3 separate regions of the Homo sapiens genome follow, and all the other regions are linked to region 2. Evidence: fine-mapped expression QTL. A gene starts in region 2. Each other region holds a variant in brackets. All regions are shown on one strand. Distances are from middle to middle.

The links. PIP is the estimated chance that this variant, and not a neighbour inherited with it, causes the effect. A credible set is the group of variants that fine-mapping cannot tell apart.
Region 1: its variant is the best candidate, but not a certain one, in a credible set for the expression of L3MBTL2 in whole blood (TOPMed, PIP 0.61).
Region 3: its variant is the best candidate, but not a certain one, in a credible set for the expression of L3MBTL2 in whole blood (INTERVAL, PIP 0.65).

What each region holds. Positions count from the first base shown.
Region 1 is chr22:41,303,788-41,311,965 of GRCh38, forward strand. All of the region lies in intron 1 of ZC3H7B (zinc finger CCCH-type containing 7B), which reads left to right. Among named protein-coding and RNA genes, the nearest start is that of ZC3H7B, 6.4 kb to the left of the region's middle. RefSeq lists enhancers at 4,570-5,071, 5,072-5,571. The variant C/T (reference allele first, on the strand shown) is at 4,178.
Region 2 is chr22:41,201,102-41,209,279 of GRCh38, forward strand. It overlaps L3MBTL2 (L3MBTL histone methyl-lysine binding protein 2), which reads left to right and starts at 4,211. Exons shown (of 17, transcript NM_031488.5): 1 at 4,211-4,285. The coding sequence starts at 4,262. It overlaps L3MBTL2-AS1 (L3MBTL2 antisense RNA 1), which reads right to left. Exons shown (of 3, transcript NR_148200.1): 3 at 8,021-8,178. RefSeq lists an enhancer at 5,055-5,555.
Region 3 is chr22:41,345,994-41,354,171 of GRCh38, forward strand. ZC3H7B (zinc finger CCCH-type containing 7B) reads left to right here. Exons shown (of 23, transcript NM_017590.6): 14 at 10-215; 15 at 2,074-2,174; 16 at 3,127-3,308; 17 at 5,568-5,653. Among named protein-coding and RNA genes, the nearest start is that of TEF, 32 kb to the right of the region's middle. The variant G/A (reference allele first, on the strand shown) is at 4,237.

The DNA of each region.
Region 1 (8,178 bases), 100 kb after region 2:
CGCTCTGTCGCCCAGGCTGGAGTGCAGTGGCGCGATCTTGGCTCACTGCAAGCTCCGCCTCCCGGGTTCACGCCATTCTCCTGCCTCAGCCTCCTGAGTAGCTGGGACTACAGGCTCCCGCCACTACGCCCAGCTAATTTTTTGTATTTTTAGTAGAGACGGGGTTTCACCGTGTTAGCCAGGATGGTCTTGATCTCCTGACCTCGTGATCCAGCCACTTCGGCCTCCCAAAGTGCTGGGATTACAGGCGTGAGCCACCATGCCCAGCCTTCTTTTTATTTTTTGAGACAAGGTCTCACTCTGTCACCCAGGCTGGAGTACAGTAGCACAATTGTAGCTCAGTCTGCCAGGCTCAGGCAATCCTCCTGCCTTGGCCTCCCAAAGGGATAGGGTTACAGGCATGAGCCACCACACCTGGCTGCTGCAAGTTTCTTTCTTTCTTTCTTTCTTTTTTTTTGACAGAGTCTCACTCTGTTACCCAGGCTGGAGTGCAGTGGCATGATCTTAGGTCACTGCAACCTCTGCCTCCCGGGTTCAAGTGATTCCTGGGCTCAACATATCTGAATTCAAGTGAACTCCTGGGCTCAACATATCTACCCACCTCGGCCTCCCAAAGTGCTGGGATTACAGGCGTGAGCCACCTCATGCCTGTCTGCAAGTTACTTTTCAAGTGCCTCTTGTGAGATGCTGTGGGGCAGGTTTGCAATTGACTTTGTCATTTATTATCTGGCTGGAAAGAGAAAGTTGATTCTAGTGAACCAATGAGAACACAAGAATTCTGGGGTCAGTGCAGTGGGAGTGGAGAGAAGACAGCTCAAGGCTACCTGGAAAAGTTAGAGAAGGCTTCTTCTAGGAAGTAGAATTTGAACTTCAAAGAATGGGGAGGCTTGCCAGGGTGGAGAAGAAGGGAATTTCTGGGTTAGCCACAATTGCTTCTGTGCTGGGAAGTTGACTTACATTCTCTCGAATTGTTATAGTAGCTCCGTGAGGGGTGGGCATTATAATCTCCATTTCACAGATGAAGAAATTGAGGAACACGGGATTTGTGTGCCCAGCCCAAGGTCAATCTGCAGGATTTGAATCCAGGCCTTCTTGACTCTTGAGTGTGCTCCTGCCCTCTGCACCACCTTCCTCTCAGATACGTAAGCAAGAACAGGGACTGTCCTATAATCCCAGCACTTTGGGAAGCCAAGGCGAGCTGATCACTTGAGGTCACGAGTTCGAGACCAGACCTGGCAACATGGTGAAACCCAGTCTCCACTAAAAACACAAAAATTGGCCGGCTGCGGTGGCTCACGCCTGTAATCCCAGCACTTTGGGACGCCGGGGCGGGTGGATCACGAGGTCAAGAGATTGAGACCATCCTGGCCAACATGGTGAAACCCCACCTCTACTAAAAGTACAAAACTTAGCTGGATGTGGCGGTGCATACCTGTAATCGCAGCTACTTGGGAGGCTGAGGCAGGAGAATTGCTTGAACCCAGGAGGCGGAGCTTGCAGTGAGCCGAGCGCTCCACTGCACTCCAGCCTGGGCGACAGAGCAAGACTCTGTCTCAAAAAAAAAAAAAAAAAATTAGCTGGGCATGCTGGTGGGTGCCTGTAATCCTAGCTACTCAGGAGGCTGAGGCAGGAGAATCTCTTGAACCTGGGGGGTGGAGGTTGCAATGAGCCAAGATCACGCCACTGCACTCCAGCCTGGGCAACAGAGTGAAACTCTGTCTCAAAAAAACAAAAATGGAGACTGGATGGTCTGAATTAGCAAATGAAACTGGGGTAGCATTGTCAACAGGCTCCCCAAGACCAAGGAGTTCTCCTAAACTGGCTCTGTATCCCAGGGCCCCGAGGGGCTGGACCAGTGAAAGCACTCTCAGTAGGTTTCTAACTGCAGAAAGCAGAATGGCAGTAGAAGGAGGACCGGTCCCTGAGCGTGGGGATCTGAGCAAGTTTGGTTCCTTAGTGCCTGCTGGGTGCCGGCCCAGCACCCTGGAGGAGCTTAGAGCTTGGGATGAGATAGATATGGACCATTAATCTGAGCTTCCCAAGGACAGGAACTGGGTCTGATTCACCCTCTGTGCCTCCAGCCCCAGAGGCGGTGCCAGGATGACACACTCAGCCATTGTGTTGTCAAATTGAATTATGCCCCAATGTAGAGGAGGAAGGTTTATTTTGCCCAAGAGTAGAAGATCTTCCTAGAAGTGCCATTTGAACATCTGAAAGATAGGTTGAAAAGCCAGAGAAAGGGTGTTCTAAGCAGAGGCATTGAGATGGACAAAGGCAGGGATGTATAAAGAAGAACAGGTCACCTGGTACAGCCACAGTCTAGTGGGCAGATACATGACATTGGGTTCAAGTCAGGCTCTGCCGTCATGATCCTTTCGATTCTCTGGGCCTCAGTTTCCCCTTCTGAAAAGGAGCCCTGAGATTTGATGATATTTAATGATAACCCATGCTTGGGGATCAGGATAAGAAACTCAGATGAAAGGAGCTAGAAGTGTTTAAAAATTTTTATTAATTTAGTAATCACTGAACCAGCAATTCTCTAGGCCCTGTTGCAAGTGCTTTTTCCTAAATTAGCTTATTTAATTCTTTTTTTTTTTTTTTTTGAGACGGAGTTCCACTCTTGTCGCCCAGGCTGGAGTGGGATGGCACGATCTTGGCTCACTGCAACCTCCGCCTCCCGGGTTCAAGTGATCCTCCTGCCTCAGCCTCTCAAGTAGCTGGGATTACAGGTGTCCGCCACCACACCTAATTTTTGTATTTTTAGTAGAGACGGGGTTTTGCCATGTTGGCCAGGCTGGTCTTGAACTCCTGATCTCAAGTGGTCCACCCGCCTGGGCCTCTCAAAGTGCTGGGATTACAGGCGTGAGCCACTGCACCCAGCCTTTATTTAATTCTTTCAACAGCCCTAGAGGGAGGCACTGTAATTATCCCCATTTTACAGGTGAAGAAACTGTGGCATAGAGAGGTTCAGTGAAGTGCAGAAGGGGCAGAGCTGCAGAGCCAACCCAGGATGTCTGGCTCTGGAGCTGGCCTGGTGTGGGCCTGGGAAGGAGCCTCAGGGGAGACCTGAGGTTATTCAGACAGCAGCGGGTGGAGGTGCTGTAGCCCCAGGCTGGAGGCTCAGCCTGGGCTGATGATGGGCTGTGCGTCAGCCCCCAGGAGCCTCCACAGAGGTCAGCTCCTTTCTTTTTTTTTTTTTTTTTTGAGACAGAGTCTCATTCTGTCACCCAGGCTGGAGTGCAGTGGTGCGATCTTGGCTCACTGCAACCTCTGCCTCCCGGGTTCAAGCAATTCTCCTGCCTCAGCCTCCTGAGTAGCTGGGATTACAGGCACGCACCACCACACCTGGCTAATTTTTTTTTGTATTTTTAGTAGAGATGGTGTTTCACCATGTTGGTCAGACTGGTCTTGAACTCCTGACCTCGTGATCCACCCGCCTTGGCCTCCCTACTGCTGGGATTATAGGCATGAGCCCGTGCTGGGCCTGAAGTCGGCTCCTTTCATCACATTTCATGGCCCCTGGAAAACAAGCTCATTTTCCTTCCTCTGTCAGCACCAGCTACAGATTCCTTCTCACCAAATTCATTCCCCCCAGGGAGACTGTTTCTTTGCAGGCATGTTGGTTGTGTTGGTGCCGTGTTGGTTGTGTTGGTGCTGTCTCCCCACCGGGCTATGGAGGCCCAGAGGGAGGGACATTCCTGCATTCAGAGCGCTTGTTCCCTTCAGAAACATCTGGTAACTTCAGTTCTGCAGCATCACAGCTCCTCAGCGTCAGAGGCTGAGACACAAGCTTGGTGGGGATCGTGGGGATACGATCACCCATATAGCAGCACATAACACCCATATAACAGCAGCCCCCATATGGTTAACACCACTGTATACCAGCATCGTGCTTGACATTTCCTATGCCTTCTCTTATTGAATCCACTTAACAGCTCTTCAAGACCAGAGCAATCATTGGCAGCCCCATCTTGTAGATGAGGAGCCTGAGGCTCAGAAAGACTAAGTTAACACTTCTGAGATCACACAGCTGAGGTAGAGAAGGGAGTCAGATGAAGCCACCTGGCATCCGAGGTCTTAGCTGCCATGCAGGAGACAGTCTTCAGGTTACTTCCAGTTTCCTCGAAGCTCTTTTCTTATCAATCTGGAAATCCTAACTACCACCAACATTTGTGTC[C/T]TGCTGTGTCCACAGTCTCTCATTAATTGTCATGACAGTCTTTTGAGGTAAGGTAAGAGGTGTCCCTGTTTTTCAGAAGAAAAAGACTGAGGCATCATCACCCACCCACTGCTCTTCCTACCCAGTCCACAATGTGACTTGGGAGGGGAACAGGGTATTGGATTCCCTGAGACCGAGAACCATGTCTTCTGATTGGTTTGTGTTACTGAAGTGCTGGAGTCAGCTGATGATCATTCCTTGAGCACTTCCTGTGAGGGCTGCAGGGAAGGTGGGGGCTCTGGCCCTCCTGGGGTTTTTAGAGGTCGCCCTGGTTCAGCTATGCTCTTGTTCCCTGGAGCATCTCTGTGTCATCCCTCTCCCTCCACAGGCTGAGGAACGCAGGGCAGGGAGCCCAAAGTCCTGAGTTTCATTCCCAACTCCTGTTCATGCTGGCTGTATGATGGAGGCATTATTATTTTGTCATTCTTGGCTTCTGTCTCCTTTTCTGTGAAACGGCCGTACTGATCCTGTCGAATCTGCATCAGGGGTTGTAGTTATGATCATTTAATAGCCTTCAGAATATTCCTGAATCTTCTTCACTGTCTGCCTTGATCCAGGCCTGAACCACTGCAGTAGCCTCCTAACCAATCTCCCAGTATCCTCTCTTGTCATACGTCCTCCCTGCAGTAGCCAAAAGGATCTTCTTGCGAAATAAATAAGCTCCTGTCACTCTTCTGCTGAAAACTCTCCTGCAGTTTCCTGACACACGCAAAACACAGCCCTGGCTCCCGGCATGGCCTGTGAGTGGTTCTGAGACCAGCCTCGCCTGCCCCTTGCACTTTGCCTCCCACGTGGCTTGCCCTTGCTTGGGTGTTGCAGCCACGGTGGCCTTCTGAGTTTTCCTGGAACATTATCAGCTTGTTCCCACCTCAGGGCCATTGCCTGTGCCCTGTCCCCTGCTAGGTAGGTGCCCTCTTACCCCACCTCCTATCTTCCATGGCTGGCTACCTATCTCTCTTAAATGTCAGCTTCCTCCTAAGGGCCTTCCCTAAACTCCCAGTCTGCTTTTTTTTTTTTTTTTTTTTTGAGACGGAGTTTCGCTCTGTCGCCCAGGCTGGAGTGCAGTGGCGCGATCTCGACTCACTGCAAGCTCCGCCTCCCGGGTTCATGCCATTCTCCTGCCTCAGCCTCCCGTGTAGCTGGGACTACAGGCGTGCGCCACCATGCCCGGCTAATTTTTGTATTTTTAGTAGAGACGGGGTTTCACCGTGTTAGCCAGGATGGTCTCGATCTCCTGACCTCGTGATCCGCCCATCTCGGCCTCCCAAAGTGCTGGGATTACAGGCGTGAGCCACCGCGCCCGGCCTGCTTTCTTTTTTTCTTTTTTTGAGACAGAGTCTCGCTCTGTCGTCCAGGCTGGAGTGCAGTGGTGTGATCTCGGCTCACTGCAATCTTGACCTCCTGGGTTCAAGTGATTCTCCTGCCTTAGCCTCCTGAGTAGCTGGGATTACAGGTGCCCACCACTAGGCCCGGCCTAATTTTTGTATTTTTATTAGAGATGGGGTTTCACCATGTTGGCCAGGCTGGTCTTGAACTCCTGGCCTCAAGTGATCTGCCCACCTCAGCCTCCCAAAGTGCTGGGATTACAGGCGTGAACCACCGCATCCGGCCCTAATGTACTTTCCATCACTCCATGCCACGCTTCCTGCTTCAGCTTCCTTGTGACTCTGATCTCTATTTTTACTTGTCGTGTGCATTTCACGCTGGTTTATTTGTCTTCCTGCCCATGGATGACAAGCTGCACCAGGGAAAGGACTTTATTAACTGTGTTCCCCTAGCACCTGGTAGGGCCCCTTGCACTAAAAGTGCTTCATGGTTATTTGTTGAATAAATGAATAATAGTAGGAGGTTGGCCACAGAATAGCCCTTGCCAAACAGCCCACGACTGGGCAGGGAAACTGCAAAGAAATCAACATTGATGGCTGAGCACGGTGGCTCATGCCTATAATCCCAGCACTTTGGGAGGCCGAGGTGAGCGGATCACAAGTTCAGGAGATCGAGACCATCCTGGCTAACACAGTGAAACCCCGTCTCTACTAAAAATACAAAAAATTAGCCAGGCGTGGTGGCGGGCACCTGTAGTCCCAGCTACTCGGGAGGCTGAGGCAGGAGAATGGTGTGAACCCGGGAGGCGGAGCTTACAGTGAGCAGAGATGGCGCCACTGCAGTCCAGCCTGGGCGACAGAGCGAGACTCCGTAAATCAACATTGAGTGATTGAAAACTTACAGGATAATTATGTCTGTTGTGAGTGCTCTCTACAGCACCCAGTTTAGCAGAAACATGAATTTCTGACCCCTTCAGGGGGAGGCACACCAGGTGGAGCTGCAAAATTGTCTTGTCAGGTGTGTATCATCATCCCTGTCTCCCAGATGACAAAACTGAGGCTCAGGGAGGTGCCCTGAAAGCCAGTGTGGGACAGTGCTGGGATCTGAACCCAGGGCTGGTGGATTGCATGGCCTAGCCTGCCTCCCTGTCAGCACAAGGCACGAAAGCAAGCAGAGCAGCACTGGAAACTCTCTTGATGCCCAATGATGCACCACAAGGATTTCCAAGCTCCCTGGGAGCAGGAGCAGTGACTACTTAACTGCTCAAGAGGAACAGGGTATGCCACAGTGTTAGACAGTCACTCTAAGCTCTGGGTGATTCTGGCTTATTTTTTAATTTTATAATTTCCAAATTTTATTTTTTAATTTTATAATTTCCAAATTTATAATTTCCAAAGCTTTTACAATGACCTTCTGTTACTGTTTTAAAAAGGGAGTTTTTTGTTTGTTTGTTTTAATGGAGTCTTGCTCTGTCACCCAGGCTGGAGTGCAGTGGCACTATCTCGGCTCACTGCAGCCTCCGCCTCCTGGGTTCACGCCATTCTCCTGCCTCAGCCTCCCGAGTAGCTGGGACTACAGGTGCCCGCCACCACCCCCGGCTAATTTTTTTGTGTTTTTAGTAGAGAGGGGGTTTCACCGTGTTAGCCAGGATGGTCTCGATCTCCTGACCTCGTGATCTGCCCGCCTCGGCCTCCCAAAGTGCTGGGATTACAGGTGTGAGCCACCGCGCCCAGCCTCACTTTTTTTTTTTTTTTTTTTTAGCCTGCATTCATTCGCGTGTATATGTGCATGTGTGCACATCGGTTTTGAGTGGGGGAGTGACATTGGCATATGCGTTACACAGATATCCCTGACCACTGAATGGGAGCATATTGGAGGGGGTGCATTGGAAACTTGGCAAGAGATGTTGAGGGTCCGAGAGGTGGCCGTGCTTGTGGAGAGGATATGAGGGGTTGCAGGGTGGGGAAATATTTATGAGGTAAAGGTGGCTGAGAACAGGATGATGCTCAGAGCTATGAATAGAGTCAGGGAATAATGGAAGAGGAGTAGGATTAGGGGAGAAGATGCTGAGTTCAGTTTGGAATGTGTTCAGTTGGAGAAACACCCAATCCAGCTGAGATGGCACCAAAGAGGACTTTGGACACAGAGGCATCTAAGCTGGGTCTTAAAGGATGAGTAGGAGTTGGGAAGGTGTGTGTGGCAGAGGGCATTCCAGGTAGAGGGCCCAAGATTAAGAAAGGGATGGAAGTCATAGGCAGCCTGGGTGTTGGACTTCCAGGTACCACTACCCAGAAGATAAGAGATATGAGTCTGAAATACTGGGGAAGGGGGTGGGCCTGGCAGGAGGAAGAGATAGGCGAGTCGTTAACATGACTCATGTTATCATGAAATGCAAGAGCTCATCTGGGGAGCAGGTAGTGAAGAGAGCAGGAGCACTGTCCCTTAAATGGAAGCTCGGGGATGTTGGTCTTGAGACCTGGGCAGAATAAGACGAGCCCCCAACAGAGAAATCTGCTTCGTTTTTTGTTCCTCAACCATGCATGGAGGCATCTCCATGACAATACATATAGATTCAATAGCTGCATTGTATTCCATGGTATGGAATTTAATTAACTAATTTAATTCATTTTAATTAA
Region 2 (8,178 bases):
GTGGCGCATGCCTGTAATCCCAGCTACTCGGGAGGCTGAGGCAGGAGAATCGCTTGAACCCAGGAAGCAGACGTTGCAGTGAGCTGAGATCACGCCATTGCACTCTAGCTTGGGCAACAAGAGCGAAACTCCGTCTCCAGAAAAAAAAAAAACAAAAGCAAAAAATGCATACATCAACAGTACAAGGAAGTAAAAACCTGAGCATCCAGTTTCAGCGTATGAGATAAGCAGAGCAGGAACACCAGTGACAGGAACCGTTGGCGTAAGTTGAAATGGCCGTTTATTAGGAATTCAGTTGAAACATCTTATTAAGCACAGGTTGCTAAGCAATAGTGGCCGCCCCAGAACAGTAACAGTGTGGCAGTTCCTTCTGCTATGGAGCTCCTGGGCAGGGGTTTCATCCTGCAGCAAAGGTACCCTTTTTGGCTGGACTAATTCATCCCTCTACATGTGGACCTAATACGCTCCTCTCTTTTAAGGCCCTCCCTCTGTGCATCACTGTCCCTCTGTCTGGGATCATTGATCTGTCTCTCTCTACTAGATCACTCCCAATAGCAACACAAACGTGCTCTTCTGTTCCAAACTATGTACATAAATCCCTTAAACTCACCTCTTCTGCTCTATGCCCTGCCATTGTGCTATTCCACCCAGACAACTTTTTTGTTGTTGTTGGTTTTTGTTTGTTTGTTTGTTTTTTGAGAGAAAATCTTGCTCTGTCGCCCAGGCTGGAGTACAGTGGCATAATCTCGGCTCACTGCATCCTCCACCGCCCTGATTCAAGCAATTCTCCGGTCTCAGCCTCCCGAGTAGCTGAGACTACAGGCGCATGTCACCACACCCGGCTAATTTTTGTAGTTTTAGCACAGATGGGGTTTCACCATATTGGTCAGGCTGGTCTCGAACTCCTGACCTCAGGTGATCCACCTGCCTCAGCCTTCCAAAGTCCTTGGATTACAGGCATGAGCCACTGTGCCCGGCCAATATTTTTCTATTTTTAGTAGAGATGGGGTTTCACCATGTTAGCTAGGCTGGTCTCAAACTCCTGACCTCAAGTGATCCACCCACCTCAGCCTCCCAAGTAGCTGGGACTATACGCTTGTGCCACCACACCAGGCTAATATTTTGTAATTTTTTTTAATTGACACAGGGTTTTCACCATGTTGGCCAGGGTGGTCTAGAATTCCTTTTTTGTTTTTTTTCCAAGCTGGAGTGCAATGGCGCGATCTCAGCTCACTGCAACTTCCGCCTCCTAGGTTCAAGCGATTCTCCTGCCTCAGCCTCCGGAGTTGCTGGGATTACAGGCATGCCTCACCAAGCCCGGCTAATTTTTGTATTTTTAGTAAAGATGGGGTTTCACCATGTCGGCCAGGCTGGTCTTGAACTCCTGACCTCAGGTGATCCGCCCACCTTGGCCTCCCAAAGTCCTGGGATTACAGGCGTGAGCCACCGCGTCTGGCAGAACTCCTGATATCAAGTTATCCACCTGCCTCAGCGTCCCAAAGTGCTGGGATTACAGGTGTGAGCCACCATGCCCAGCCAGACAACTTTTTTTTTTCTCTGTCACCAGGGTAGAGTGCAGTGGCATGAACATGGTTCACTGTAGCCTCAACCTCCTGGGCTCAAGCAATCCTCCCTCCTCAGCCTCCAGAGTATCTGGGACCACAGGTACATGCCACTACACTTAGCTAATTTTAAAAAATTTTTAGCTGGGCACAGTGGCTCAGGCCTGTGATCCCAGCACTTTGGGAGGCCAAGGCAGGCGGATCACGAGGTCAGGCGATCAAGACCATTTGCCCAGGTGGGCGAATCACCTGAGGTCGGGAGTTCGAGACCAGCCTGACCAACATGGAGAAACCCCATCTCTACTAAAAATACAAAAAAAAAAAAAAAAAATTAGCCAGGTGTGGTGGTGCATGCCTGTAATCCTAGCTACTTGGGAGGCTGAGGCAGGAGAATTGCCTGAACCTGGGAGGCAGAGGTTGTGATGAGCCGAGATCGCGCCATTGCACTCAAGCCTGGGCAACAAGAGTGAAACTCTGTCTCAAAAACAAACAAACAAAAAAACTCTAATGCCGTTCCCTTGCACAGAATAAAATCCAAGCACTCCACAAGACCCTGAATGACCTGGTCTCAGCTTTCTCTCAAACCTCATCTTGTATCACCCTCTCCATGTTTTGCTATATCCATCTACTCTCTCTGTCTTTCTGTTTATTGCATACCAAGCTTGAGTTGGCCCCAGGACCTTTGCACTTGCTGTTCCACCAATGTGGCCTTTGCACTTGCTGAACCAACCTGTCTTTTTCTTTTTTTTTCACCACTATCTTATTCCAGAACATTTATTTTTATTTTTATTTTTTGAGATGGAGTCTTGCTCTGTTGCCCAGGCTGGAGTGTAGTGGTGCAATCTCGGCTCACTGCAACCTCTGACTCCCTTGTTCAAGCGATTCTCCTGCCTTAGCCTCCCAAGTAGCTGGGATTACAGGCACCCGTCATCACACCCAGCTAATAGTTGTATTTTTAGTAGAGATAGGGTTTCATCATCTTGGCCAGGCTGGTCTCGATCTCCTGACCTTGTGATCTGTCCATCTTGGCCTCCCAAAGTGCTGGGATTACAGGCGTGATCCACTGCACCCGGCCAGGTCAATGAGTTTTAAAGATCACCTGTGTGTATTAAAGGTGAAGATTTAAAAAGGGTGACCACAGGAGGTGGAGGTTGCAGTGAGTGGAGATCCCACTGCATTCCAGCCTGGGCGACAGGGGAGACTCCATCTCAATCAATCAATCAATCAATAAAAGAAAGAAAGAAAGGGTGACCAGTTGAAGGGCTGCTGCAATGGGCCGGTGGCTTGTATTAGAGTGGTAGTGGTGGAGGAAATACAGGATATATTTTGGAGGTAGAAAAACCAACACGTTGACAGCATGGATACAGGGGTTTAGGGTGGAAGGGGTTGAAGGAAAGAAAGACCTCTAGGAAGAGTTTGACATCTCCACGGCGGACTTCAAATTTAGGCATATATTTTATATGTATTCAGCCTCCACATATTGCATTTAGAGTCTCAATTAATTCACTGGGACACGGCATGGCATAGGGAAGGAATCTGTACTAAATTTGGAATCCCAATCCTGTGTGATCTTGGAAAGTGCCTAAACCTGAAGTGGTGAAGAGCCACCACTTCCTCTTCTTTCAAACGGTGATAGGATGTCTAAGGGTTTGAAAAGATGTTTGCAAAGCTCCACAACAGCACCTAGAACTCAGGGTGTCTAAGGAGGTTGTGGGAAACCCTAACGGGATGAGGCAGAGAGCCTCAGATTCGAGGTTTTTACCCAGGAGAGAGTGGTGAAGGAGGAATGTTGTAAGATTTTGAGCAGGCTGGACATTTACAGTATTGAGAAAAAGAATATTCCAGTTTCAGCCGGGCGCGGTGGTTCACGCCTGTAATCCCAGCACTTTGGGAGGCCGAGGCGGGTGGATCCCGAGGTCAGGAGTTCAAGACCAGCCTGGTGAAACCCCGTCTCTACTAAAAAATACAAAAATTAGCCGGGCTTGGTGGTGGGCGCCTGTAGTCCCAGTTACTTGGGAGGCTGAGGCAGGAGAATCGCTTGAACCTGGCAGGCGTAGGTTGCAGTGAACCGAGATCGCGCCACGGCACTCCAGCCTGGGCGACAGGGCAAGACTTCGTCTCAAGAAAACACACACACACACACACACACACACACACACACACACACACACACACACAGAGTATTCCAGTTTCTTCCTTTTTTTTTTCTTTTTAATCTGGAGTAGTCCAGTTTCTGCCTGAGTTGGAAATGAGTCCCTCTGCTATGCATCCCAGCAAAAGGGCACCTTAAATATCTAACCCGGGAGAGTACGAGGTTATTCCTGGAGTCTGGAACAGTGACTATCATAGGTGCTCAATAACCGTTTAGGGAAGAATAACATCCAGTGAAGTCAAGAGGTTGGCGTAATTGGAACACTCGGCGTGAGGCGCACCAGGTTTCCAGCGCCCCTGGTTTCCACGTCGCTATGGTAACGACTCACCCTGCACACATGCGAACTACAATTCCCATAACCGCCCGCGGCTTCCCCGCCCACAGGGAGAGAATGGCGGGAGCAGGCACGGAACCGGCTTTTCCTCCTTCCTGCAGCGTGATTGGCCCGCGGCTCAGGGAGGCGACCAATGAGTGCTCTCGCGGAGAGCGACGGGGCAGGCCAATATGGCTTCCTGCACCTGGTGACGCTTGGCGAAACTGAGGTCTCATGGAGAAGCCCCGGAGTATTGAGGTGAGAAGGCGAGGACTTAGCGTGACTGGGAAAGGGAACTCCGAGAGCCTCGCTCCGTGGGCCCTTCTTTAGGGCTTTTAGCGACGCCTGGAGGGTGGAGGGTGGGAGGATGGATAAACTGAGGTAGTTAAACTGAGCCAGGGGCAGAGGCAATTGACGTTACTTTTTGCCCCTCTCCTGCTGGGGCCAACGTTCGGCGAGGAGTTCAGGGAGGAACAGCCGTCCCTGGCCTGGGGGAAAGGGAACTAGGTTTAGGATCTGAGAGCTCCTGAATCTTCCTTATCCTGCTTGTCTCGTGGCTGTGTTGTTTAGGGCTTGTGAGGCCTGTTACATGAGGTGGGAAGTGAAGGGAGATTAAAGTTGGGTGAACATCACTCCTTGTCTGTAACGTTCACGTGCATTATCTTCCAGTACACTCACAGCAATCATGTATTATTCTTTCGTCTTTGTCGTTCAAGCCACTGAGGCTTAGAGGTGGTGCGACACCCCAGGAAGTTACCCCGGCTGGAAAGTGAAGGAGATTGGCACTAAGTCTGTCCGCCTCTGAAACTTTGCCTGTTATGCTTTTCACACTGTACTGCAACCTGGAACCCACTCATCCTTTTTTTTTTTTCTTTCAGACGGAGTCTTGCTCTGTCACCTAGGCTGGAGTGCAGTGGCGCGATCTCGGCTCACTGCAACCTCCGTCTCCCGGGTTCAAGCAATTCTGTCTCCATCTCCCATGTTCCTGGGATTACAGGCATGTGTCACCACACCCGGCTAATTTTTGTATTTTTAGTAGAGACGAGGTTTTGCCATGTTGGTCGGATTGGTCTCGAACTCCTGACCTCAGGTGATCTGTCTGCTTCACCTCGGCCTCCCAAAGTGCTGGGATTACAGGCATGAGCCACTGCACCCCGCCTCATCCTTTAATCATTTGGTTTCTGGGCACCTTATATTTAAGAGACGGGGTGTTCCTATGTTGCCCTGGCTGGAATGCAGTGGTTACTCACAGGCGTGATGACAACGCACTGCAGCCTCTAACTCTTGGGCTCAAGCAATCCTTACACCTCAGCCTCCTAAGTAGCTGGGACTATAGGTGGTCTCTGTCACCCTGCCTGACAAGGGTACCTATATTTGAATTGTTTCCTTGCTGGGTGCGGTGGCTCACGCCTGTAATCCCAGCACTTTGGGAGGCCGAGGCGGGCAGATCACGAGGTCAGGAGATCGAGACCATCCTGGCTAACATGGTGAAACCCCATCTCTACTAAAAATACAAAAAAATTAGCCGGGCGTGGTGGCAGGCACCTGTAGTCCCAGCTACTCGGGAGGCTGAGGCGGGAGAATGGCGTGAACGTGGGAGGCGGAGCTTGCAGTGAGCCGAGATCGGGCCACTGCACCACTGCACTCCAGCCTGGACGACAGAGCGAGACTGTGTCTCAAAAAAAAAAAAAAATTGCTTCCTTTCTAGCATATTTGCATGTGTAGTTGCAAATATAAGGTGGAATAGCTCAAACTTTCTGCAAGGGTAAACGAGAATAATCATGTGGAGAATAAGAATAGCAAGTCACACTTTTAGAGCTGTTACTGACTGCTGGAAATAGAACTAGGTTTTACATATCTTATCTCAATCTTCGTAAGAATTCTCTAAAGAAAGCTTATTACCTCTCTTGTAATGATGACAGCAGCAAGATAAAATACGCACAAAATCACACAGTTAATAAATGTTAGAGCCAGGATTCAAACTCAGGCAAATCAGAGCCTATGCTTTCAACCAGTAAAAATTGGCAACCTTTATTGAGCACTTACTATATGCAAGTCACTATTCTGAGAGCTTTGCCTGTATCGTCTCTTACTTCTCCCCCAAATCCTTTTTTTTTTTTTTTTTTTTTTTTTGAAACAGGGTTGCTCTCTGTCACCCAGGCTGGAGTGCAGTGGTGCAGTCATAGCTAACTGCAGCCTTGACCTCCCTGGCTCAAGAGTTCCTCCCACCTCAGCCTCCCTAACCAAAACACCCAGCTAATTTTTTCCATTTTTTATAGAGACAGGGTTTCCCTATGTTGCCCAGTCTGGTCTTGAACTCCTAGGCTCAAGCAATCCTCCTGTCTCGGCCTCCCAAAGTGCTGGGATTACAGGCATGAGCCACCATGGCCAGCCCCCAAACCCTATGAAATAGGTGGTACTATCCTCATTGTACAGATGTGGAAACTGAAGCACTGCAAAATTGACTTGCTGCAGGTCATACAGCGAGTAAGCACTAGAGATATTTGAGCTCTGGACCAGAGGCCAAACTTTTCTCCTTTCTTCACACCTTTTTTTTCCTTTGAGACAGTGTCTTCCCTCTGTCATCCAGGCTGGAGTGCAATGGTGTGATCATGATTCAGTGCAGCCTTGACCTCCCAGGCTCAAGCTGTCTTCCCACCTCAGCCTTCTGAGTAGCTAGAGCCACAGGTGCATGCCACCACCACCCAGCTTTTTTTTTTTGAGAAGGAGTCTCACTCTGTTGCCCAGGCTGGAGGGCAGTGGTGCAATCTCGGCTCACTGCAACCTCCAACTCCTGGGTTCAAGTGATTCTCCTGCCTCAGCCTCCCGAGTAGCTGGGATTTCAGGCACCCACCATCATGCCCAGCTATTTTTTGTATTTTTACTAGAGATGGGATTTCACCATGTTGGCCAGGATGGTCTTGAACTCCTGGTCTTAAGTGATCCGCCCGCCTCGGTCACCCAAAGTGCTGGGATTATAGGTGTGAGCCACCGCACCCAGCTTTTTTTTCTTTTTCTTTGGAGACAGGATGTCATTCTCTTGCCCAGGCTGGATTGCAGTGGCATGGTTATGGCTCACTACAGCCTTGACCTCCCAGGCTCAAGCAGTCCTTCCACCTCAGCTCCAAGAAGCTGGGACTACAGGCGCATGCCACCACACCTGGCTAATTTTTTTTTCTTTTGTAGAGATGGGGTGTGGCTGTGTTGCCAAGGCTGGTCTCAAACTCCTGGGTTCAAGCAATCCACCTGCCTCAGCCTCCCAAAGTGCTGGGATTACAGATGTGAACCACCGTACCCAGGCTCTTCACACGTTTTCTGTTACATGCTGGGTAGATTCATATACATTATCTCATTTGCATCTCACGAGTCAAATATTTTTATTTTATAGATGAGAAAGTTGAAGCCCACAGAAGTTAAATGACTTGCCCAAGGCCCTATAGCTAGTTAGGCTCAGAGCTGAATCTAGCGCTGTAGTACACACCAAGATGCCACAGTTATCTGTGTGTCATCTGCCTCTCCCATCCTCTTTGGAGCAGTCTAGGTCCCAAATTAACTTTTCTGTGACTTAAATTGTTTCTGAGTTGAGATCATTTTGATGTATATTGAACGGGGAAGAATTTTTGTTTTTCTTTTTGAGACAGCATCTCACTCCATTACCAGGCTGGAGTGCAGTGGCGCGATCTTAGCTCGCTGCAACCTCCACCTCCCGGGTTCAAGCAATTCTCTGCCTCAGCTTCCCAAGTACCTGGGATTACAGGCACCCGCCACCACACCCAGCCAATTTTTGTATTTTTAGTAGAGACGGGGTTTCACCATCTTGGCCAGGTTGGTCTTGAACTCCTGACTTCGTGATCCACCCACCTTGGCCTCGGAAAGTGCTGGGATTACAGGTGTGGGCCACTGTGCCTGGCTAAGAATTAATTTCTAATATATCTTCTACCCCAGAAAGTCTTTGTGAAGTACCTTAGGATATTTCACTTTTTTTTTTTTTTTGAGATGGAGTCTTGCTCTGTCACGCAGACTGGAGTGCAGTGGCACGATCTTGGCCCACTACAACCTTTGCCTCCTGGGTTCAAGCAATTCTCTGCCCCAGCCTCCCAAGTAGCTGGACTACAGGTGCCCGCCACCACGCCTGGCTAATTTTTTCTTGT
Region 3 (8,178 bases), 140 kb after region 2:
TCTTTGCAGACATGATTAACAAGCAGGACTGTAAGTACGGGGATAACTGCACCTTCGCCTACCATCAGGAGGAGATCGACGTGTGGACCGAGGAGCGGAAGGGCACCCTCAACCGCGACCTGCTCTTCGACCCGCTGGGGGGTGTTAAGCGCGGCAGCCTCACCATCGCCAAGCTCCTGAAGGAGCACCAGGGCATCTTCACCTTCCTCTGCGAGGTACTGCCCACCCACCCACTGCCACCCCATAGGCCATGGCACAGACAGGGCTGGGGATGCTCCCTGGCACGGACCACCATAGGAAGTCAGCCCTGGAACCCGTGGGCTGTGGAGGCCTGGTCTTAGAACCAGTAGGTCCTGGAGGGTCAGTAAGTCTGGGCCCTAGGATCCTATCTTGCTAGAGGCCAGATCTGATCCAGCCCCCTCATTTTGCAGAGGCAGAAACTGAGGCTGGAAAGAAAAATCATAACCCTCACACCTGCTCTTTTCTGACAGCCAGTCATAGGCAGGGCTTGGCACGTGGTTGTTTTCGTTTCTCATTCCTAGCCTGATGCAGTGGCTCACGCCTGTAATCCCAGCACTTTGGGAGGCTGAGGCGGGCAAATCAATTGAGGTCAGGAGTTTGAGACCAGCCTGGCCAACACGGTGAAACCCTGTCTCTACTAAAAATACAAAAATTAGCTGGGCGTTGTGGTGCACGCCTGTAGTCCCAGCTAGTTGGGAGGCTGAGGCAGGAGAATCACTTGAACTGGGGAGGCAAAGGTTGCAGTGAGCCGAGATCGCGCAACTGCACTAGAGACTCCATCTCAAAAAAAAATTAAAAATTAGCTGGGCTTGGTGGCATGCGCCTCCCGTCCCAGTTACTCAGGAGGCTAAGGTGGGAGGATTGATTGCTTGCGTCCAGGAGGTAGAGGCTGCAGTGAGCCAAGATCGAACCACTGCACTCCAGCCTGGGTGACAGAGTGAGACCCTATTCCAAAAAAAAAAAAAAAAAAATGTCATTTCCATCGTCACGGCAGTGCTGGCAGGCAGATATCCCCATTTTACAGATGTTGAGGCTGAGATTCAGGGTAGCGAGGAACTGCCCTCAGCCACACAGACAGTGCCGTGCAGAACTGAGCTTCAAACCCAGGCAGCCTGTCCCTGGAGTCATGCCCACCTCCCAGCACCAGCTGCTGCTGGTGGTCCCCACAGCCAAACCCCCAGGACACAGGCAGATTGAGGGCCTGTCCGGGGCTTCCCCCGCATCCCTTGTTGTGGGTATGATGTATTTGGCACTGCTTAGCCGTCCCAAGCGCCGTGTCCACGGCCCCACGTCTCAGGCCTCCTCCACATGCCTTTCCTCGGCCCTCCTGGCTTCAGTGGCCATTGCGCTTCCCTGCCTGGGTTTGCCCTCCCCACAGGGCGCTGTCCTGTGTTTCTGGGCTTGGAACCTCTCAGCTGGACTCTGATCCCAGCAGCCCCACTGAGCTGTTAATTCCCTCCCCAAAGCTGTCCCTGAAGACCCCGCTTGGCCTCCGGAGTGAACTTGGCCCCTGTCTCCCCACCCAGTCATAGCATGTTGAGGGCAGGGGCAGTGGCACGTCTGTGTCCGTAGAGCAAGGGCTCCAGGTCCGGGTTGCTGGCAGGGTTTGGTGCCGCTCAGTCCAACCCTCATCCCTGGCACCACCAGCCCTTCCCCTAGCTCTTCCAGGTCGGGACTTGTGCCAACCCCCCACAGGGAGCATTGGCCTGGGAATCATAGTTCATAGCCAGGTGACAGCCTGTAGTTCATAAAGAACTTGCCATTCCTTTTTATCTTTTTTTTGACATGAAGTAACCCCCTGCCTCAGGCATTGGGAGTGGTGGGATCAGAGGGAGGGAGGAGGGTGAGGAAGGGAGCCAAAGCCCAGGTCACCTGTGAGCTGGAAGCAGAGAGGCAAGACCACAGACCCTGGGATTCCCTTCCTCACTCCTCTGACCCAGGGCAGGGCTTGCAGGGACCCAGCTGTCCTTCCCCAGCTAGCTGTGTGGGGTCCCAGCTCACCCCCTTCCCAGGTGGCCATGCCAGGTCCCAGCCCTTCCCCTCCCTGGGCAGATCTGCTTTGACAGTAAACCCCGGATCATCAGCAAAGGCACCAAGGACTCTCCGTCTGTCTGCTCCAACCTGGCTGCCAAGCACAGCTTCTACAACAACAAGTGAGTGGGACCCTCAGCCCAGGCTGAGGCCTAGGGGCCAGTGGAGAGTCCCCTCAGGCAGCTCAGATGGCTGAGGAAAGGCTGAACTGAAAGGGTGGATGTAGGGTGCAAGGAAAGGGGCAGAATTTGGGAATCAAATCCAGCCTCCACCTGGAAAGGATGAGAATCACATTTGTCGAACATCTACTATATTCCAAGCGTCATCTTGGGTATGTTAATTATCTTAGCAATCCTGTGAGGGAGGAGTTACTGGCCCTGTTGTACAGAACAAAAAGCTGAGGCTTGGAAGTAGCTTACTTAGCTTACTCAGCTTACTCAGCAGACAGCAAGCGGGGGGCCTCGTCTCTGACTGTAGCCCAGCACCCTCCAATGTCATGACATCAGTGTCAGGCAGTGAGGGGAGGCCTGGGTCAGGTCTGGCACCACCCCTTTCTCCCTCTTGTTCCCCTTGGTTCTGCCATGGTGTGCATATGGAGCCCAGGGCCTGCAGTCAGACAGACCTGGGTCCAATTCCTGGGCCAGTCCTGTCTTACGTCCAAGCCTGGGTTTCCTCGTCTGTAAAGCTGATGATGCTCTAGGCTCCTGGGGCTGCAGTGAGGGTAATTAAGACTCCTGGCCCAGAGGACATGCTTGGTTAGTGTTCCTCAGGATGCAGGACCGGCTCTGCAGAATCAAGCTGGAAACCTGAGGGCGGTGCCCTTTGCTTGTTGGCAGCTCCATCTTTGAACCCTGGGGGAGGGACAGGAGTAAAGCAGCGCTGGGACCCAGGCCCAGGGGTGCCTGAGCATAGGAGCCCTGTTTCTGCCCTCCTGTGTCATCCATGGCCTGGATTTGGTACATAGATCAGGGGGTGCCCAGGGAGAGCCTGGCACTGGGAAGGTGGCCCTACCAGGAGAGAAGGTCAGAGGGGCTGCGGACTGCATCGTGCCCCTCCTGCCTGCCCGCCCGCCAGGTGCCTGGTGCACATCGTCCGCTCCACCTCCCTCAAGTACTCCAAGATCCGCCAGTTCCAGGAGCACTTCCAGTTCGACGTGTGCCGCCATGAGGTGCGCTACGGCTGCCTGCGGGAGGACAGCTGCCACTTCGCCCACAGCTTCATCGAGCTCAAGGTCTGGCTGCTGCAGCAGTACTCAGGTGAGGGGCAGGCGGTGCAGGTGGAGGGCAGGTGACTCAGGTGAGGGGTAGGCGGCGCAGGTGAAGGGAGCGCAGGACTGACTGGGGTGACAGGCCAGGGCCCCATGGTCGCTGGAGGGGGCTTCGGGAGAGTTCAGGAGAGGTGGCTGCGGGGTGGGCTCTCTGTGTGTCCCAGGCACCACAGAGGAGAGAAGCTCTGCTCTCAGGGCGCTTCCAGGCTCGGAGATCTGGGTTTTTCCCTTCGTAGGCACCGTCCAGGGAGCACGGAGAGGGGAGAGGAGCACCTGGGCTCCTGCAGCAGGACCTCTGCTTGCTCCCTGGGTGGTCGGCAGCAAGTCCCCGCTCCTCACTGAGCCTCCAGTGCTCATCTGGGAAATGGGGAGCCCCATCTCTTCCTCACAGAGCTGCTGCGGGGATTGGAAGGTGTTCTCCACTCACCCACCAGGGATTTACTGAGCACCTTCTCTTGTCAGGGCATTCAGCCATGGTCTAGTCGAGGCCCTTACTTTCAGAGAACCTACATTTATAAGTGGGGGCCAGACAGATAATATATCAACAGGTGAATAAATCCTGTATTCCATCCATTCTAGGATGCACATTTACCCCTACTGCCTGTCATCATTTAATTAGCAGCATTTTGTGGGGCGGGGATTTAAAATATGGTACATATAACATTCAGTGTCTGCTTAGAGTTGGTGAAATGCAGTGGTAGCATTTCAGGCGTGCCTCAGTGTTATGAGGAAGATAAAGCCGAGCAATGGGACAGAGACAGACTCGGGGATGGGAGCATTTTAGGTAAGATGGCTGGGAAGGCCTCTCTGAGGAAGTGACTTTTGACCAGGGAAGGGCGGGGAGTGCATTCCAGAAGAGGGACCAGACTGAAGTCTCTGAGGCAGGAGCAAGCTCTGCACAGAAAGGATGGTCCCTG[G/A]GGGTAGAGCAGCTTAGTCAGTAGAAGGGGAATGAGGCCTGAGAGGTTGGAGGGGACTGAGCATGTAAGAGTCTCTAGGCCTTAAACAGGAACAACTGGGGTTGTTCTAAATATGATTTACAGTGTCTGGAGGAGGGTTTTAAGTGGGTGGAGTTATATGATCTGATCAGTACTTTGCAAAAGTCACTCTGGCTGCTGGGTGGAGATCGAGGAGCAAGGGCAGAAGCCGGGAGATCAGGGAGGGTGGCTCGGGCCAGGGTGGTGATGCTGGAGGTGGGAGAAGTGGTTAGATTCTAGGTGTATTTTGAGGGTGGAGCCAACAAGATGTGTTGATGGATCAGATATGAAGTATGAGACAAAGGAGAGCGTCAAGGTGGACTCTAAGATCAGAGCAACAGGAAGAATGGGGCTACCATGTTCTAAGAGGGGGCAGGCTGTAAGAGGAGCAGCTCAGGCTCAGTGTGGGACGTGGGAAGTCTGAGCTGCCTGGTGGACTTCACATGGAGATGTTGGAAGCAGCAGATGTGGGGATCTGGAGGTTCACAGGAAAGGTCTGGCCTGTAGATACATACTTGCAGATCATCAGCAAGAAACTGGATGTCAAGTGCAGTGTCTTGCCCCAAGTAAGCACCGATGATGATTAGCTGTCGTGGAGCAGGGGCCATAGGTCAAGGTGGAAGGCCACATCTGTTGTGGGAAAGACGTGAGAAAGATGGAGAGCGCTGAAAAGAGGGCAGGCTTCATGGAAGAGTTGTGAGCTGGATCTCCAAGGTCGGGCTCAGTGGCAACAGTCTGAGGCTGGCGGGGAGACAGACTGGAGAGTCCATGCCACCAGGCTGGGGTATTTGCCCTTTGGGGACTGGCAGTAAAGAGCCGTGGTACCACAGTGAACCGGTGAGCCAGGCTGGGCAGGCATGGAGCCCTAAGTGCCAGTGAGGCCAGGGGCTGCCAAGCAGGCACTAGGCTTGCAGCCCTGTTGAGGGAGATGGGGGTCAGGGAAGGGTGCTGAGTCACCGGCCCAAGAGACAGGGTCACTGGCATGGGAGCAGAGGACTCCCTACCACAGTACAGAGCCAATATCTTTCTACTGCATTTTCCCACTCTTGGCTGCATTTAATTCTTTCACTTCCAGTGAGGCTCGGAGCAGGTCTTTGTTCCCATTTTGCAGATGGACAAAGTGGTTCCCTTGTACCCCATGTCTTACTGTGGCTGGGCTGAGAATAGGGCTCCTCCAGCTGGGCCTCGGGGGTCCCTGGCACCTCGTGGACCCCCTGCCTCCCTCCTTGCTGAGCACCTTGAAAGATGCCTGTGTCTGCCCCCACCCTCCCCAGGCATGACCCACGAAGACATCGTTCAGGAGTCTAAGAAGTACTGGCAGCAGATGGAGGCGCATGCGGGGAAGGCCAGCAGCAGCATGGTAAGGCCTTCTGATACTATGCCATTATTCAGATTTTGTGAATTGTCCCCAAATTACAAACAGGAAGGCTCTAATTTTACAATAGAGAAATGTTTACAATGGAGGCACCTCGAATAAGTTATGAAAGTAACTTGGATAATGTACACATTCAGCTGTTGTGTCTCATTTTATTTTATTTTATTTTATTTTATTTTGAGACAGGGTCTTGCTCTGTCACCCAGCCTGGAGTGCAGTGGTATGATCATGGCCCACTGCAGCTTCCACCTCCTGGTCTCAGGTGATCCTCCTGCCTCAGCCTCCTGAGTAGCTGGGATTACAGGCATGCACCACCACACCTGGCTGATTTGTCTATTTTTTAAGACCGTGGGTCTGGGGATGTGGGGCTTGCCATCTTGCCCAGGCTTATCTGAAACTCCTGGGCTCAAGCAATCCTCCCACCTTGGCCTCCCAAAGTGCAGCGATTACAGGCATGAGCCTTGTCGTGTCTCTTTTTCATCTCCCTTGATGAAGAAACGGTTCTTTAGTCTTTGCCTTGTGTTGCATTGAGGTTTTTGAAGAGCCAGATGTTTTGTAAAAGGTCCATCCCTCTGGGCTCGTGTGAGTTTCCTCATTCCACAGAGGTGATGTCGTGTTCTCAGCTCACACATCAGGGGATGCGTCATCTCAGTGTGTCCCTTCACTGGTGACAATCTAATTAAACTTTCATAACTTGATTCAAGGTGCCTCCATTGTAAACATTTCTCTATTGTAAAATTAGAGCTTTCCTCTTTGTAATTAAGACTATACTTTCAGGGATCATTTCTATAGTTTGTAATTAATAAAGGTCTTCAGAGGCCCGGCGCAGTGGCTCACCCCTGTAATCCCACCAGCCTTTGGGAGACTGAGGCGGGCGGGTCACGAGGTCAGGAGTTCGAGACCAGCGTGTCCAACATAGTGAAACCCCATCTGTACTAAAAATACAAAAAATTAGCTGGGCGTGGTGGCGGGCGCCTGTAGTCCCAGCTACTCGGGAGGCTGAGGCAGGAGAATCGTGTGAACCCGGGAGGTGGAGGTTGCAGTGAGCTGAGATCACGCTGTTGCACTCCAGCTAGGGCGACAGTGTGAGACTCCGTCTCAAAAAATAAATAAATAAATAAAAAGTCTTCAGGAGGCCTGGCGTGGTGGCTGACGCCTGTAATCCCAGCACTTTGGGAGGCTGAGGTGAGCGGATCACCTGAGGTCAGGAGTTTGAGACCAGCCTGGCAAACATGACGAAACCCCGTCTCTACTAAAAATACAAAAAAATTAGCCGGGCATGGTGGCGGGCACCTGCAATTCCAGCTACTTGAGAAGCTGAGGCAGGAGAATTACTTGAACCCAGGAGGCAGAGGTTGCAGTGAGTTGAGATTGTGCCATTGACCTCCAGCCTGGGTGACAGAGTGAGACTCCATCTCAAAAAAAAAAAAGAAGAAAAAAAGGTCTTCAGGAGAAATACGTTGAGACCTTGTAAATATCCCAGTACTGCTCGGACTGACACCACTGATTGTGGTATCCCCTCCCATCCCTCCTGATCTTCGCCATGGTCCTGAAGAGAGCATGGGATTGTGGCATTTGCAGATGGGGAAGCTGAGGCTGAGAGATTGTTAGTGACTTGCCCAGGGGCACACTGAGTGGGGCAATTCCCAGGTTCTCTGACGTCCTGTCCGGGGCTCGCTCTTCTCCCTCCCCACCTGCGGCATTCCTGTCCATCACCCCCAGGCGGGGATCAGAACCCTGGCCCTCGTATCTCCTGGGGTGGGTGTGAGGCTCACAGGAGCCAACCTAAGCTGCCCTGTGCTCACATCGTCCCCAGGTGGTGGGATCACTGTAACTGTAGATGACAGTGGAGGACCCTCGGGCTCAGAGGGGTGGGCACAGCGCCCAGGAGACAGTAAGTGTGAGATGAGGCCTCTGTGCCATCCAGGCATGAGCACTGACCCTTTCATCCACATGAGGCCACCTGCTGATTAACTTGGGGGAAGGCTGGGCCCCTGGACCCTTCAAGAGGCTGACCAGGGTGTGGCAGGGAGCAGGGCAGGCTGCCGGGGGGTCCCTGGGCCAGGCTGGCTGGCAGGGCTGCCCACCACCTCGAGCATTCCCTTGCTCCCTGACTTCTTTGTTCCTGGTCCTCTTCTCTTTTTCTCCCCTCTTCCTGGTCCCTGCTGCCCTCCATCAGTCTCCTGTGCAGTCCTCTTTTCCCCTCCCCATCTGTTTCTTTTTCCTTCTGGCCAGGAGCCTGGCAGGGAAGGAGTGAGGGGCTTATGGGACCTTTGAAAGAGAGAACACTAGCTGGGTGTGGTAGCTCACCTGTAGCCCAGCTACTCAGGAGGCTGTGGCAGAAGGATCCCTTGAGGCCAGGAGTTTGAGATCAGCCTGGGCAACATAGTGAGACCCCTCTTGCCACCTGCTATGGCAAGGAGCTGGTGAGACTATGCAGTCATCAACGTGGGCATGGGGTCTGGCTCTAAGGGAGGAGCTCAGGACTGCAGTGGCTGTCATTAGTGCAG